4 linked regions of the Homo sapiens genome follow. The protein of the gene in region 1 purifies or fractionates together with the protein of each later gene. This does not show direct contact. Each region holds a gene or a part of one and is shown on either strand. Other genes may lie near its edges.

What was found. The genes of interacting proteins can lie anywhere in the genome.
Region 2: the proteins of FGB (region 1) and HDLBP purify together in Homo sapiens (affinity purification with mass spectrometry; 2 studies listed by BioGRID and IntAct, with this or other methods). This does not show direct contact.
Region 3: the proteins of FGB (region 1) and MCTS1 purify together in Homo sapiens (affinity purification with mass spectrometry; 2 studies listed by BioGRID and IntAct, with this or other methods). This does not show direct contact.
Region 4: the proteins of FGB (region 1) and PPID purify together in Homo sapiens (affinity purification with mass spectrometry; 2 studies listed by BioGRID and IntAct, with this or other methods). This does not show direct contact.

The regions. Positions count from the first base shown.
Region 1 is NC_000004.12:154,561,675-154,565,810, reverse strand, and holds the start of FGB (fibrinogen beta chain isoform 1 preproprotein), read right to left. Parts: upstream 2,801-4,136; 5' UTR 2,793-2,800; coding exon 2,679-2,792; intron 4-2,678; coding exon 1-3. UniProt on the Homo sapiens protein: Cleaved by the protease thrombin to yield monomers which, together with fibrinogen alpha (FGA) and fibrinogen gamma (FGG), polymerize to form an insoluble fibrin matrix. Fibrin has a major function in hemostasis as one of the primary components of blood clots.
Region 2 is NC_000002.12:241,232,173-241,235,672, forward strand, and holds part of HDLBP (vigilin), read right to left. Parts: intron 3,423-3,500; coding exon 3,318-3,422; intron 3,084-3,317; coding exon 2,949-3,083; intron 1,792-2,948; coding exon 1,648-1,791; intron 1-1,647. UniProt on the Homo sapiens protein: Appears to play a role in cell sterol metabolism. It may function to protect cells from over-accumulation of cholesterol.
Region 3 is NC_000023.11:120,607,101-120,610,600, forward strand, and holds part of MCTS1 (malignant T-cell-amplified sequence 1), read left to right. Parts: intron 1-1,124; coding exon 1,125-1,258; intron 1,259-3,500. UniProt on the Homo sapiens protein: Translation regulator forming a complex with DENR to promote translation reinitiation.
Region 4 is NC_000004.12:158,713,397-158,716,896, forward strand, and holds part of PPID (peptidyl-prolyl cis-trans isomerase D), read right to left. Parts: intron 2,289-3,500; coding exon 2,166-2,288; intron 2,008-2,165; coding exon 1,901-2,007; intron 1-1,900. UniProt on the Homo sapiens protein: PPIase that catalyzes the cis-trans isomerization of proline imidic peptide bonds in oligopeptides and may therefore assist protein folding. Proposed to act as a co-chaperone in HSP90 complexes such as in unligated steroid receptors heterocomplexes.

The DNA of each region.
Region 1 (4,136 bases):
ACCCTACAAGGAATGAGGCAGAAATATAATACAGAGTGTTATAGAAGATTTGGAATGTAACTATTCCAACACCCTCATTTTATAATTTAGGTTATCACAAGCTTGATAATTTGCTTAAGATCCATCAACTGGCTGGTTGGTGATAGTGAATCTGTAGGTTGCTTACTGTTCAGTAACAGTAGAAAGACCAACTGCACAAAAAAGCTATGATGCAGTGTAGTTTTTAAAGAGAGGCCTTAGGATAAAGCTGTATCAGATTATGAATAGTAATGACCTCATATTCCTAAAACATACATTGGAACTTACGAAATTGTAAAGAATCTATACTGTCAAGAAGAATGAATATTCTCAAGCCACTTGGATTGTTAGATTCCTATGATTATTGTTAATCATTTCCCTACTTTCATTTTTGTGAATTGGTGATTAGACTCCTATATAAACATATTTAAGAGACATTAAAGACTTATTAAAGGTTGATTCTACTTGGAATTTATTTGTAATAAGACAATCTTTGACCCTCATAATGTACTCTGGAGCTCGGCTACTTGTAGGTCTTGACCGTAGGGTTGACTTACAGCTATGAGACCTTGGGCAAGTTGCTTTATCTGTGCCCCAGTTTTCTCATCTGTAAAATAAGTGTAATGATAGTTTGAATCTGCCTTACAAGATTATTGTAAGGATTAAATAACTTATTGCATATGGTACCCTCAGAACAGTACTTGGCAATAATAAGTGCTCATTACTATTTTTACTGGAATCACACATAACAAGTACTACAGTTTAAGTGTCCTCTCCACTTCGAATTTCACTTTTAGTCTTATCTTCTATCAACAAAATTATTTGTTAAACCATTATCTTGAAATTTCTTACATGATTTCTTTATCAAACATTATGATTTTCTTATATTTAAAATAATTCTCAAGGCTTGTGCATTGTAATTAAAATTACTTGCTAACTTAAAATATTATATTAAAGGATAATGAAGCAGAAAATACGCATTGCAATAGGAAAGTTTTGATTTGGATTAACTACATTCTCATTTTTTTTTTTGTCAGTAGCTATACATCCTTTGGAGCTTAATTACAAATTAACAAACGACATGATTTGGAACAACTGAGCAACAACTGAGCTCTCTTGCAATTTTGTGAGTCTAGAAGTCATCAGATGAACTCTATTTGGAATTGCATTGTCATTTATTCATTAGATTATAATATTATTTAACATTTAGTAGGATGGTGCTAAGATTAAAACCCAGCCAGGCTGGTTCCAGATTTTCCTGTTTAACCAGTTGACTATATACATTCTTAATATGTAAAGATTCGGAGGATATATACATATTTCACATTGAAGTCATGGTCCTAGTCAGAGCTTACCCTCTCTAAAACAAATTTTAAGAAATGTGATTCATCTGCTTATTACAAATACAATTATAACAGAGAAAACTATTTTCTTTTTATTTCAGAGTGCCACTAGAGAGGTAGCATGGATGGTCTGGCTTTACTAGAGAAAAGGAAATTTTAAAAAATATTTAAAGAAAGTATATACTTAAAGAAAAACACTTAAAGAAATTATGAAGGCCACTTGTTGAATAATCAAAATCCATTTTAAAGCCTAAACTATTAAACTATCTCTGTGAGGTTTAGTTGATAAGCAGAAATGTGAAAGTGCTTTGCAGAGTACTTTACAAAAATTTCGTCTTACACATTCTTTACATTTTTCTTACCTAATATGATTAACCAGACTTAACCAGATTAACCATATGTTTTTACACACACAACCAGATTAACTATATGTTCTTACATGTAGAGTCTGATAAGTACAACACTCAAGTTCCCTTGAAACTCAATAATGATCCGAAATGAATCACTTCATTTAAATATTATTGTGTATTCTTATTTCTAGTTTAATGATACTATGCTATATGTAAGAAATTTGGCCATGATACGTTTGATGATAAAATTTAAATTTCTTAAATATCCATTGTCCTAAATGCATTTCTGTATTTTTAGTAACTGCAAATTAACAGCAATAAGTCAGCAAAAATAATAGTTGAGGACAAACTGTTCTACAAATAAATAAATTAGACTGAACCGTGTTTCATAACTATTAATAATAACAATACACACTAACTCTAATTTGAACTTTTCATCTGAAAAAAGCAATATTTCATTTTCTATCATTACACTTGATGTATTTTGCTTTTAGGCTTAGTTATAATTTTTATAAATAGTAATCTCAGTAACAATATATATTACCTTCCTTCACCAAAGAACAATCTACCTACCACCAGTTTCTTTTATCTTAAAATTCTGCTCTTTTATTATTTTATAGTTTGTGAGATTTTCAGATCTTGTCCTCTTAATTGTAATCCTGTATTGCTAGAAGTAAATGAAAATCACAGTACTCAGAATAGCAAGTGAGAAAAACACATCTTACATTAGCTAAGCCATCCTCATCTTAAGAAAACAAAGGTGATAAACTAGAAAACAAGAAATTACTTTGTTTTTATATAAGAAATACTATGAAACATTCTTTAAATACAATAAGTCAGAGGTTAACAATTCCATTTCATAACTATAAGCAATGCTAATTTCATTAAAATAAGCACATAATATGATTATGTTACATCTTATATTAATAATACTACTAATAATATAATAATGCTTTAAAAAATTCACCTCCTCATTGTCGTTGACACCTTGGGACTTAACTAGAAAAACACACAATAGTAGCAATAATAGATGTTTCATGGTTTTAAGTTTGTGGAAGCTCCAAGAAACCATCCTTTTCATGTAGACTTAACTGAGAGATCTTCAATCCTATATATATCTGAGTCCTCTGCTAGGAATGACTTCAGAAATGGTTACCTTTCCTTAGTTAATATTTAATTTTTGGTTCACTTGTTGGCTGAACCATTTTATCATTTAAGCAACATCTTCCCAGCAAAGCTTATTTACTTGTCATACAACTATTATTCTTTGTTGGTCTAGTTTAGAAACATTAAATTTCTTCAATTCATTTAATTGGACAAAATGATGGGAAGTTAGGGCACTCCTCAAAGAGAGATGTGTATCTTGTTTCTGGTAAATTAATGTGGAAACTACACAAGCTCCGAAAGAATATGTGAGAAAACAAATCTAAGCTTAGTAAATTTGACCTACTCACAAGGCAACCACTAAAATCGTGACTCATTAATGATATACCATAAATGCTTATGTTTTCTGACAATGACATAATTCTATTTCAAAAGGGGCCATTAAAATCAATAGTAATGTTATATCATAATGTGTTTATCTTTTGTTTTAGACATTAATCAAAATAACAAAATAACAAATTCATACCCTATTCTATGAAAAATACACATCAGAAAGACCCTTTTTTTGTGCTGAATAGCTTTAATATTTTGTCCTTAATTCACATAAGGTAAAATGTTCAACAAATTCTAAACATTATTAAGATAACTAATAAATTATAGATTTCTGAATCAAAATTATGATGATGATTAAATACATGTTTAACATTCTATTTTATTGTTATATAGTTTATATCATATGATTTATAAAAACAATGTTATTTTAACACTGGTGAAGTCTTCATACATCTATTTCAATTAGTATGCTCACAGACTAAATGAGGCCCATTTTCCTTCATTTCCCACAAGCCACAAAATTTATCTCTCTTGTCTGTTCACTTGTGTGTTGCAATCAGGATTAATAACTCCTACAAGAATCAATAGGAACACCAGTCAGTAATCCAAATCCCAGTAAGTGCATTGATTCAAAGCATTTTTCTGTTTTTTGTATGGAAAGTGAAACATTCTCATTAAATTTATAAATTATTTTATTAAAAAGATGGCAGGTTATCAGGGTTTGGATCAGCGTATTGAAACAATGCTTTGAAACAGAGTCTTGAGAATGGTGTGGGACCCACGACATTTCTTTCTTCTCCAGGTAGCAGAGATTGCATTCCCAAATTCTTTTAACTCAGATTCCTAGAAACAAATTATTCTCTTGGTAGCATAGGTTGTCCTCCCAAATTCTTTTAACTTAGCTTAATAGAGACAAAGTACTCAGTTTAAATTAAGAAAAAATATTCACTTGAGTCTTTCCAAATTTGTGTTCCCTTTATTAGCAATG
Region 2 (3,500 bases), on another chromosome or scaffold:
GAAGCACAGCTCACAGGAAAAAGCTGCCTGTGAAGAAATGACTGCTCCACCCCACTTGGCTCATGGTGTATTAGATGGAATAGTCTAATTGCTAAACAATGACTTTTTTTTTTTTTTTTTAAAGACAGAGTCTCACTCTGTCGCCCAGGCTGGAGTGCAATGGCATGATCTCAGCTCACTGCAGCCTCCGCCTCCTGCGTTCAAGCGATTCTCACGTCTCAGTCTCCCGAGTAGCTGGGATTACAGGTGCACGCGACCACGCCTGGCTAATTTTCATATTTTTAGTAGAGACAGGCTTTCGCCATGTTGGTCAGGTTGGCCTTGAACTCCTGACCTCAGGGGATCCACCCGCCTCGGCCTCCAAAAGTGTTGGGATTACAGGCGTGAGCCACTGTGACTCACCTATAATGACTTTTAAGATTGATAATTATATAGAATAGTAGAGGGAAATAAAAGGCAATAAGGGTGAGGGGCTTAAAAGAGCTAAACTCTTGGGCTGGGAGCGGTGGCTCACAGCTGTAGTCCCAGCTACTTGGGAGGTTGAGGCACGAGAATCACTTCAACCCGGGAGGCAGAGGTTACAGTGAGCCGAGATCGCGCCACTGCACTCCACCTGGGGCAACAAGACAAAGACTATCTCTCTCAAAAAAAAGAACTAAACTCTCAAGATCAAGACTAAAAATTAAAAAATGTATGTGGGGAGGGAAGAGGACGTGGGAGCTGGAGGAGGCAGGGTGCAGGAGGGCCCTCCTGGCCTGGCTGGTGTGTGTGTGACTCAAAGATCCAAAAGGGAACAAGAAGCTGGGGAGGAAGAAGGGGAAGGGGAAGGGGAAGCAGCGGAAAACCCTGGGCGGCACATCCACAGTGGGAGCGAGGGGCGTGGAGGGGCTCTGCTGCCAGGGGGTTTGCTGTTTCTGGAAACCAGCACAACTGTGGCCACCAAGGCTTGCTAGTCTCCCACTGTGGGCAAAGCTGTGCTGGACACGCCTAGGAAGCAGACACCCCAGCAGGATGCCAGAGCCAGGAAAGACCAAGCCTGGGAAGTGTGTGCAAGAGGGGGTGTTGGGTGAGGCTGCCCTGCATGCCAGGTGGCAGGGCCCAGAGAGGGGATGGGGCTGCCTTTCATTTTGTTCTGAGTGAAGCAGGAGGCCATGAGGGCCAGTGGCAGGGGGGTGGCACTGCAATTTGGAGGAAGTAACAACAAGAGTTTACTAAGGACCATCTGGCAAGCACAACGGTGTTTGCAGCTGGGGCTGCAGAGAAATGTCCACCTGACCCCAAGAGGCCCAGGTGACAGGTGAATGAGAGCCCTTGGGAGCCTCAGAGAGGCCCGGGTGACAGGTGAATGAGCTACACCTGGAGGCGCCACTGATCAAGGACCCAGCTGGAGCTCCTGCTCATTTTCTGGAAGGAGACGCAGGAGAAAATGCTCCAGGCCCCAGATGATACATAGTGCCAGAGACCTCACCCATCTGGCAAGTACCGAGACACAGCCCAAACCTCAAGCCAGAATTAGGTCCTGAGAGACTTGCCACTCTCAACTTGGCCCTCGAACCCCCATCTAGGCACATCTGGTTACTGCTCCCAAGTCACAGGAAAGGTCAACAAGCACCTCTGCCCCCGACACGCTCCAACCGAGGCTCTCACCTGGTTCCCATCGTCCTTATCAGGAAACTGGATGTTCACGTCATGCTCCAACCGGATTTGGGTAATTACTGCCCCCTTTCTCCCGATAATCTTGGGATGGTATTTGGGGTCTACAGTGACACTCAGCTTAAAACTCCTTAAAGCCTACAAATGAAAGGAGCAAGAATGAGGCAAAGATTGAGCTGATCCACCCTGTGACTCCATTCCCCTTCCACCCTGGTCATAGGACACTGGAGATGCTGCAGTGTTCTGTAACCCGTGGTCCGGAATGGTCCGCCATCTCTCTGGTCCGACCTCTGCCACCTTCCATTATCTGCTAATAATGAGAACCAGGGAACTTGGCTGCTCCACAAGGAGGTCTATAAATCCTTCAAAAGAGGGCTTGGGACCACTTGCGAGGATCGTGCTCAGGAACTGACAGAGCTAGGCAGTGAGTCACGAGCTTGGGGCCCCGCTCTCCTCATTTGTCAAACAGGGATCTGATGGATACGCACAGAAATGCTCTGGATCTTTTTAGGACTGGGGCAGATGCAGACCAAGAAGAGGGGGCAGCCACAGCCCCTGAACACCCATGGCCAAAGGCTACAGGTATGACCTGGCTGCAGGAGACAACCCAGAGTCCACGCAGGGGTACACTGACACCATGTGAGGTTCACGAGCTCCACCCCATTCACCAGACTCGACGTGCTCACGGGAGGAGTGGAAAGCCAACCCCCTTAGCAAACCAGCACCCCAGCACAGTCTGCTCCAAGTTCCAGAACCCCTGCTCCTGTCTGCAGCACTCTGCTCACACAATCCTCCAAATGTCAGCCCTGCCAGAGGCTGGGCGTCTGCAGCGCTCCGCTCATACAATCCTTCAAACGTCAGCCTTGCCAGAGGTTGGGGGGGTTTCATCCCTGCTTACCAGGAAGTCATTCGCCCTTTGACCACCCTGTGCTAGAGGTTAGTGGGGGTCCCCGATGCTCGTCCTCACTGCATAGCACATGCTTGGGGGCCTCTCGCAACCTTGACCTTTCTTGTAGGTCTGAGGTACCACTCTGATTTGGTTTTGAGAGAAACTGCAAATTTACACGGAAGTCCAACTTTGTCACTTTTTTATGAAAAAGAGAAAGGTGCCATGCTCTTGGCTAGTTCCACAGCAAGACCCCTGGATGCTGACTGCGTCCTGGCACTGCCTGCATCTCACCTCCAGCCAGATGTCGCTGGGATGCTGGGATCCTGAAGAACTTCCCTAGATTCTGACATGTGCCCAAAGCTGAGCACCATGGCTCTGGGCAGTGCCCCGGCCACCTCCTGCTCACCCGGTCCTCCTGCTCGGCCTGTAGCTCCTTCACACGCTCCAGCAGTCCAGCCTTGGCCCGGTCCAAATTTGCAGCGAGGCCCGTGATGGCGATGATGTCAGACTGCAGCTCAGGTGCCGGGACATGTATGTTCACCTACGTGAAGAGGGGGCTGACTTGACGTTCAGGACCCCAGAGAACAGGAAAGAGTCCATTGGCCCTGGGACCCAGAAGTGGTGAGAGGGAAGGCCACCCGCCGTGAAGGGAAGTCAGTGCCCAGTCCGAGCAGGAGGAGGCAGAGTCAACAGGAAGTTGAGAAAGGACACTGGCACTCGGGAGAGGATGCGACAGGCCACTCCTGTGACATGGCCTCCCGGGAAAGGGGTCTACCTCAAACTCATCCATCATCTTGCGGATCCCACTTCCTTTCTGCCCAATAACGTAACGGTGAAGGTCAAAGGGCACCTCTACTTCAATGGTGACAGGAACCAATGCCTGCAGGGAGGATGGTCATGGTTAGGCCGTGGGAGCTGAGAGCAGAGTGACGTTGTAAGCTCAGCAATGGGGCTCCAC
Region 3 (3,500 bases), on another chromosome or scaffold:
TTTTTTAAAATTGGGCTCTCTGTTACATAGTTTTTAAAAATTGATACGTCATAGCTGTACATTGTCTGCTGTTGTGGTGCCTGTATCCCCCACCACCTATATATATTTATAATAGTTGTACATATTTTAGGGGTACATGTGATATTTGATACCTTTATACAGCGTGTAATGATCAAATCAGGGTAATTAGGGTATCTGTCACCTCAAACGTTTATCTTTGTGTTGAGAAGATTACAATTCTTCTAGCTATTTTGAAATATAGAGTAAATCATTGTTAAATATAATTTCCTTATTGTACTCTCGAATACTAGAACTTATCGACCTGTATTTTTATACCCCTTAACCAACTTCTCCTCATCCCCTTGTAGTTTTTTTTTAAATTAACAGGCTTTTATTTTTTAGAGCAGTTTTAGGTTTCCAGAAAAAGTAAGCAGAAAGAATAGAGTTCCCTCTCCCCAGTTCAGATTCCCCTATGAATAACATCTTGTTTTGGAATGATACATTTGTAACAATTGAACCAGCATTGATACATTATTATTAACGCAAGTCCTTAGTTTACATTAGGGTTTACTCTTTGTATTCTACAGTTTTATGGTTTTTCCCAAATACATGTCAAGTATCTACTGTTAAAGTATCATACAGAATGGTTTTACTGGCCTAACATCCTTTGTGCTCCACCTATTCATCCTTCCTCCCCCCACTTCCCCAACCCCAGGTAACCACTGATCTTTTTAATCGTTTTTTTACTCTGCGTTTTTCACTTAACATTATATCACAAAAATTTCCCAGGGCATATTAAGTAGTCTCCAAAAACCATAGTTTTGAAATTACGGTTTTTGGAGAATACTTGGGATGCTGAGGCGGGAAGATTGCATGAGTCCAAGAGTTCAAGGTTATTGTGAGGTATTGATTGCTCCACTGTACTCCAGCCTGGGTGGCAGAGCAAGACCCTGTCTCAAAAAAACAAACAAAAAAGATTACCAATTTGGTAAACAAATGATAGTGTTTCAGAGTTTTCTTTTGTATCTGTCAGATTAATTTGGGGAAATACTGTTCAGATCCTTTGCCTTTTTCTGTTGAGTCATTAGTCTTATTATTAATATATTGTATATCTTTTCTTACAGATCCTTTTATCCTGCCACACCAGCAGGTTGATAAAGGAGCCATCAAATTTGTACTCAGTGGAGCAAATATCATGTGTCCAGGCTTAACTTCTCCTGGAGCTAAGCTTTACCCTGCTGCAGTAGATACCATTGTTGTATCCTTCCCAGGCTAAAACTGCTGAAAAATGTATTCATTGTGCTCTTATCATTACTGCGAAAGGTGTACCATCCAAGAGAACATTAGATGTACTTTTTTGAAGGTTACTGTTACTCTTATCTCATGCCTTTCTGGTTACATTTGAAGTTGTACAAAGTAATTTTATTTGTTGCTACTAAATTATCTCATCTTAGGTCGTTTCTTAGAAGTTAAATGAGAACAAGTTACAGAAGAGTCTCAGCTGCATTTCAGCCCAGTCAGGGCCTACTGTTATCAGACTTAGGACACAATAGGGAATTCTTGATTACTAGGGGAAAGGATATAGATGATATAATTGGATCAGCTTTTTGGATATCAACTTGCCACTGTAATGTTCATTTTGACTTACTGACATACGTTGGAGTGAAAGCTCTCAAAAGGGAAAAGAATTTAGGCACCAGGTATAGGTATCTCTTACCAAGCAACAATTTTGTGTTAGGAGTGAATAGTGGGAAATATTGGCAACCTCCAACTTTTATTTTGAAAATTAATTATTTGAAAAGTTGAGTTTGGGGGCCTCAGAGCACGTTTTCTCAAAGAGAAATGTCAGAGTCCCAGATGGTCCTTAAAGATCGATTCAACTCATGACATAGCTGAATAATTCTGCATTATTTCCATTTCTACCATGCTGTTTCAGCTATTTTCTGGATTAAATAGATTTTTGTGACTATTCTGGACAGGAGAACATCTTCTCCTTTATCATAGCTAAAGTAGCCATTTGCCTCGGGTATAGAAAAGGAATGGTACTTGGTGGGAATAGGGAAACTACTTTTAGAGTGTGTTTATCTTATTTTAGTTTTTGAGATGGAGTCTCGCTCTGTCGTCCAAGCTGGAGTGCAGTGGCACGATCTTGTCTCACTGCAACATCTGCCTCCTGGGTTCAAGCAATTCTCCTGCCTCAGCCCCTCGAGTAGCTGAGGTTACAGGCACCCACTACCACGCCCGGCTCATTTTTGTATTTTTAGTAGAGACAGGGTTTCACCATGTTGGTCAGGCTAGTCTCAAACTCCTGACCTCAGGTGATCCACCCGCTTTGGCCTCCCAAAGTGCTGGGATTACAGGTGTGAGCCACCACACCTGGCCAGGGGTGTGTTTAAGAAGAATAAGAAAAAAAAATGATATTCTCTGTTGGGGCAGTTATAGCGAAGAGGTAGTATAAGTAGTATGTTTATATTCTAGGAACAGCTTATGTTGACATGCTTTTTGCCTAATAGGTGCTCACATATTTGGAACACTGAGTGAATTGAAAATCAAGGGAGAAAAGTGAGGACGGGTTTTTTGTTGTTGTTGTTTGTTTTTAATATTTATTAAGTGTTGGTAAATTTATAGTTCTGGAGTTAACCTTAAATGGAAAATTTCCTTAGTACCTAGTCTTTACTTTTAAAAATAATTTTTATTTTGAAACAGTTACAGATTTAGAGAAAGTTGTTAAAGAAAATGGTACAGAGAGGTCTTGTGTACCCTGAATCTTGACTTTTTAAAATATGTACTGCAGTGTTTAACATTCCAGAAACTTCATATGTTAACCAAGACCACTCTGGTTTTTCTAGAAAGGTTGAAACTGTTATATCAGGCTCTTAAAGATAGACTGGGAATTTACCTATTATTTTAAAACAGCCTTTACATAAAACCACCATTCAGGCCGGGTGTGGTGGCTCATGCCTGTAATCCCAGCACTTTAGGAGGCTGAGGCGGGCAGATCACCTGAGGTCAGGAGTTCGAGACAAGCCTGGCCAACATGACGAAACCCTGTCTGTACTAAAAATACAAAAATTAGCTGGGTGGGGTGGCATGCGCCTGTAATCCCATCTACTAGGGAGGTTGAGGCAGGAGAATTGCTTGAACTCAGGAGGCAGAAGTTGCAGTGAGCTGAGATCATGCCACTGCACTCCAGCCGGGTGACAAAGCAAGACTCCATCTCAAAAAAACAAACGGCCGGCTATGGTGGCTCACGCCTATAATGCCACCACTTTGGGAGGCTGAGGCAGGCGGATCATGAGGTCAGGAGTTCAAGACCAGCCTGGCCAACATGGTGAAATCCCATCTCTACTAAAAATACAAAAATTAGCTGGGTGTGGTGGCACACGCCTGTAGCACCAGCTACTCGGGAGGCTGAGGCAGGAGAATTGCTTGAACCCGGGAGGCAGAGGTTGCAATGAGCCAAGACTGCGCCATTGCACTCCAGCCTGGGCAACAGAGTG
Region 4 (3,500 bases), 4.2 Mb from region 1:
TTTAAAATTTTTAAGAAGGCTTAAAAAAAATTGTTTTTGTTCCCCAAAGTGTTCAAAGAGGCCAATTTAAGAGCAATTCCCAAATCTAATTATGCACTAGTAACACTTTTCTATTTTTAAAACTCAGGTCCCCACTATGTACTTTCCAACATAATTATGTTTGGAACCAGGATTCTCATAATAGGAGAAGGGAATTCAGTAGAGGAAAGATGAAGGAGAACTCTATTGTGTTGATTTTGCATTGTCCCTGAAAAGGGCCCCAAAACTGAGCACACCTGGCCCCCAGAATTTGGTTTCTAAAGTTTTCTTTCTCTAAAAGAAATCAGAGGTCCTTGGAGAAACTGCCATATCAGATGTGAAAGTAAGGTAAGATGAGCTTAGAGCAAGCAAGTGCTCGCAGACTAATAGGAACATGCCAAAGGAAAGGGGCCTTCCACTGAACAAATTTGGAACCCTTTGGGCATGAAAAAGAATGACAATAATAGCGTACTAACAAACGGAATTGAAAACTACCCATAAGATATCCTCTAGTCCCTGCTACTTGGGAAGGTGAGGAGGGAGGATTGCTTGGGCCCAAAAGTTCCAGACCAGCCTGGGCAATATAAAGGAGGCCTTGTTTCTATAAAAGGAAAAAAAAAGAAAAGAAAAATATCCACAGGTCTATAGTGATACTTAAAAAATATGCGGGAGGCTCTTGCAAACAGAAGAATGCTAGTTAATAACTGTACGATGATAAACTTAGAAGTTCAGTATAACAGATTCAGGCATGGATTTTCAATGATGCTAAGATCCACTGTGTGAAAAGTTGTTGGGGACTAGAAATTCATACAATTTCACGATACCACCTCAGACTAACAAATGCTTGTGGCTGACACTACTTTAACCATGTGTGTGAACTCAAACAGGCCAAAGCGAAATGTGTCTTCAGGATGTGATATCATAGGTAATACAAAACAACACCTAAGTCTTCTTGCCAAAATATTTCACCTCAAACTAATCTTAAGGAAACAAACACATACAGATGAAAGTCTATAAAAACAACTGACTTGGACTCCACAAAAATGCAAATGAATAAAAAACCAGGGGAGGTAGGAAACGTAAGAGATACTACCACTAAATATAACACATAATCTTAGTTTGGACCCTTGATTTTTCTAAGAAATTGAAACAACTGGGGAAGTTGGAATATGGATTACTTTTTTTTTTTTTTTTGAGACAGAATCTCACTCTGTCGCCCAGGCTGGAGTGCAGTGGCATAATCTCGGCTTGCTGCAACCTCCACCTCCTGGGTTCAAGTAATTCTTGTGCCTCAGCCTCCCAAGTAGCTGGGATTACAGGCGTGCGCCACCAGCCCAGCTAATTTTTGTATTTTTAGTAGAGATGGGGTTTCACCATATTGGCCAGGCTGGTCTCGAACTCCCGACCTCAGGTGATCCGCCCAGCTTGGCCTCCCAAAGTGCTGGGATTATAGGCATGAGCCACTATGCCCAGCCTAAATATGGATTGATATTATCTATCAATATTACTTTGGGGTGTTTTAACGGTATTGAACTTATGCAGAATGTCTTTGTTTCTTAGGAAATACGTGCTGAAATACTTAGGGTAAAGTATCACAGTATCAACAACTTCCTATCAAAATAGTTCTGTAAAAACGTAAACAGCAAAAGTTAAAAATTGGTGAATGTAAGTAAAACTTATGAGTAATTATGTACTACTCGTTCAACTTCTGTCTTTTGAAATTTCTCAAAACAAGCTGAGGGGAAAAAAAAGGAAATGCAACTATTTCAACACACCTGGTTATTCCACAAGTAATTTGCAAAAATATAATGAGCAATTCTTAATTTTAGTTTATAATTCAATTTATAATTTCTTAAAAATAATTTGTTAGAAATAATATTACCTTAAAACTTCTGCATATTTTTTAATAGCCATCTCCCAGTTCTGGGATTTGAAAAAAGTATTTCCAATGTTTTTTAAGTCTTCTGTTATTAATAAAATTTTATCTACCTGTATAAAAAAATACAAATATGTTGGATTTTAGTAAGTAATGTGGTTTAATGCTAGATTCTATCATATGAGAGACTGAAACAAAAGCTCAAACTTTTAGTACTAAATATTTTCACTTACTAAATTAATTAAAGTTTGACTAATCTGAAAGTACTCACATCTTTTAAATCTATATCCGCATCCTCAGGGAAATCTGGATGACTGTCGCCAGAGCCATCTTTTGGGAATATTCCCCCGTCATCTCCTTCCTTCAATTCTCCACATTCTGCAATAACGCACAACTGTAAAAATAACCCTAAATTGTAGAAGTGCACTATCGTAATAATGAGAGATAAAAGCTATACAGCTGAAGTCATGTGCAGCACTGTCCAATTCACAGATTTATGTGAGAAGGCTCATTTATGTACTATAATGCTGTTTTTATACATTCCAACTAATACGACAATGTTAGTATTTACATAAGCATTTTATTGCTATTCAGGAGCTCAATAAACACAGAATAAGTTGGCAATTTTATCATTGTCTATGTAAGTGGCATTAGGTGGGGCATGAGCTTCCGGTTTACTACTATTCTTGTCATACACTGAGTGACAGCCTACCTCCTACAAGTAACTGAGCTTCCAACTCCCACTCACAACCCTGTCACTTAGGCTGGGTAGTATTATGGTCGTTTAGGGGTTTTTCTTTTTTTCTTTTTTTTTTAATAGAGACAGCATCTCACTATGTTGCCAAAGCTGGTTTCCAACTCCTGGTCTCAAGTGATCCTCCCACCTCAGCCTCCCAAAGTGCTGGGATTACAAGCATGAGCTACCATGCCCAGCCAATATTAAGGTCATTTTGATTCACAGACATTAAGTACACAAGGGTCTTCAGAGATAATCTAGTCTAAACCCATAAGTAATTTAGACAGGAGAAAACACGTGTGGAAAAGTTAAGTAACAAAGTCAAGGCCAAGCCTCTAGTTAATGCTACAATCCAGACAAGATTTTGGGCTTATTATCCTCATTCCACTATGTACTACTATACATACCAACTGAACAGTTTTGCAGGTATAGGAAGACTTAACGTAAACTAGCAAAGATCACCAAATGAAAGTTGAAATAATAAAAATCTCCTTTAAAACTACCCTAATTGTCTTTCCCATTGTAGAAAAGTTAAAAAAAAAAAAAAAAAGTGGCAGATCCTGGCTCCTATACCCAAAATTATTATAACATTTTTCCAGCTAATAATCACCTGATCCTTTTACTTATATTTCTTTAAGATAGCAACTAACAGGCTGGGTGCGGTGGCTCATGCCTGTAATCCCAGCACTTTGGGAGGCCGAGGTGGGCGGATCACAAGGTCAGGAGTTTGAGACCAGCCTGGCCAACATGGTGAAACCCCGTCTCTATTAAAAATACAGAAAAAATTAGCCGGGTGTTGTAGCGCGCGCCTGTAATCCCTGCTACTCAGAAGGCTGAGGCAGGAGAATAGCTTGAACCTGGGAGACAGAG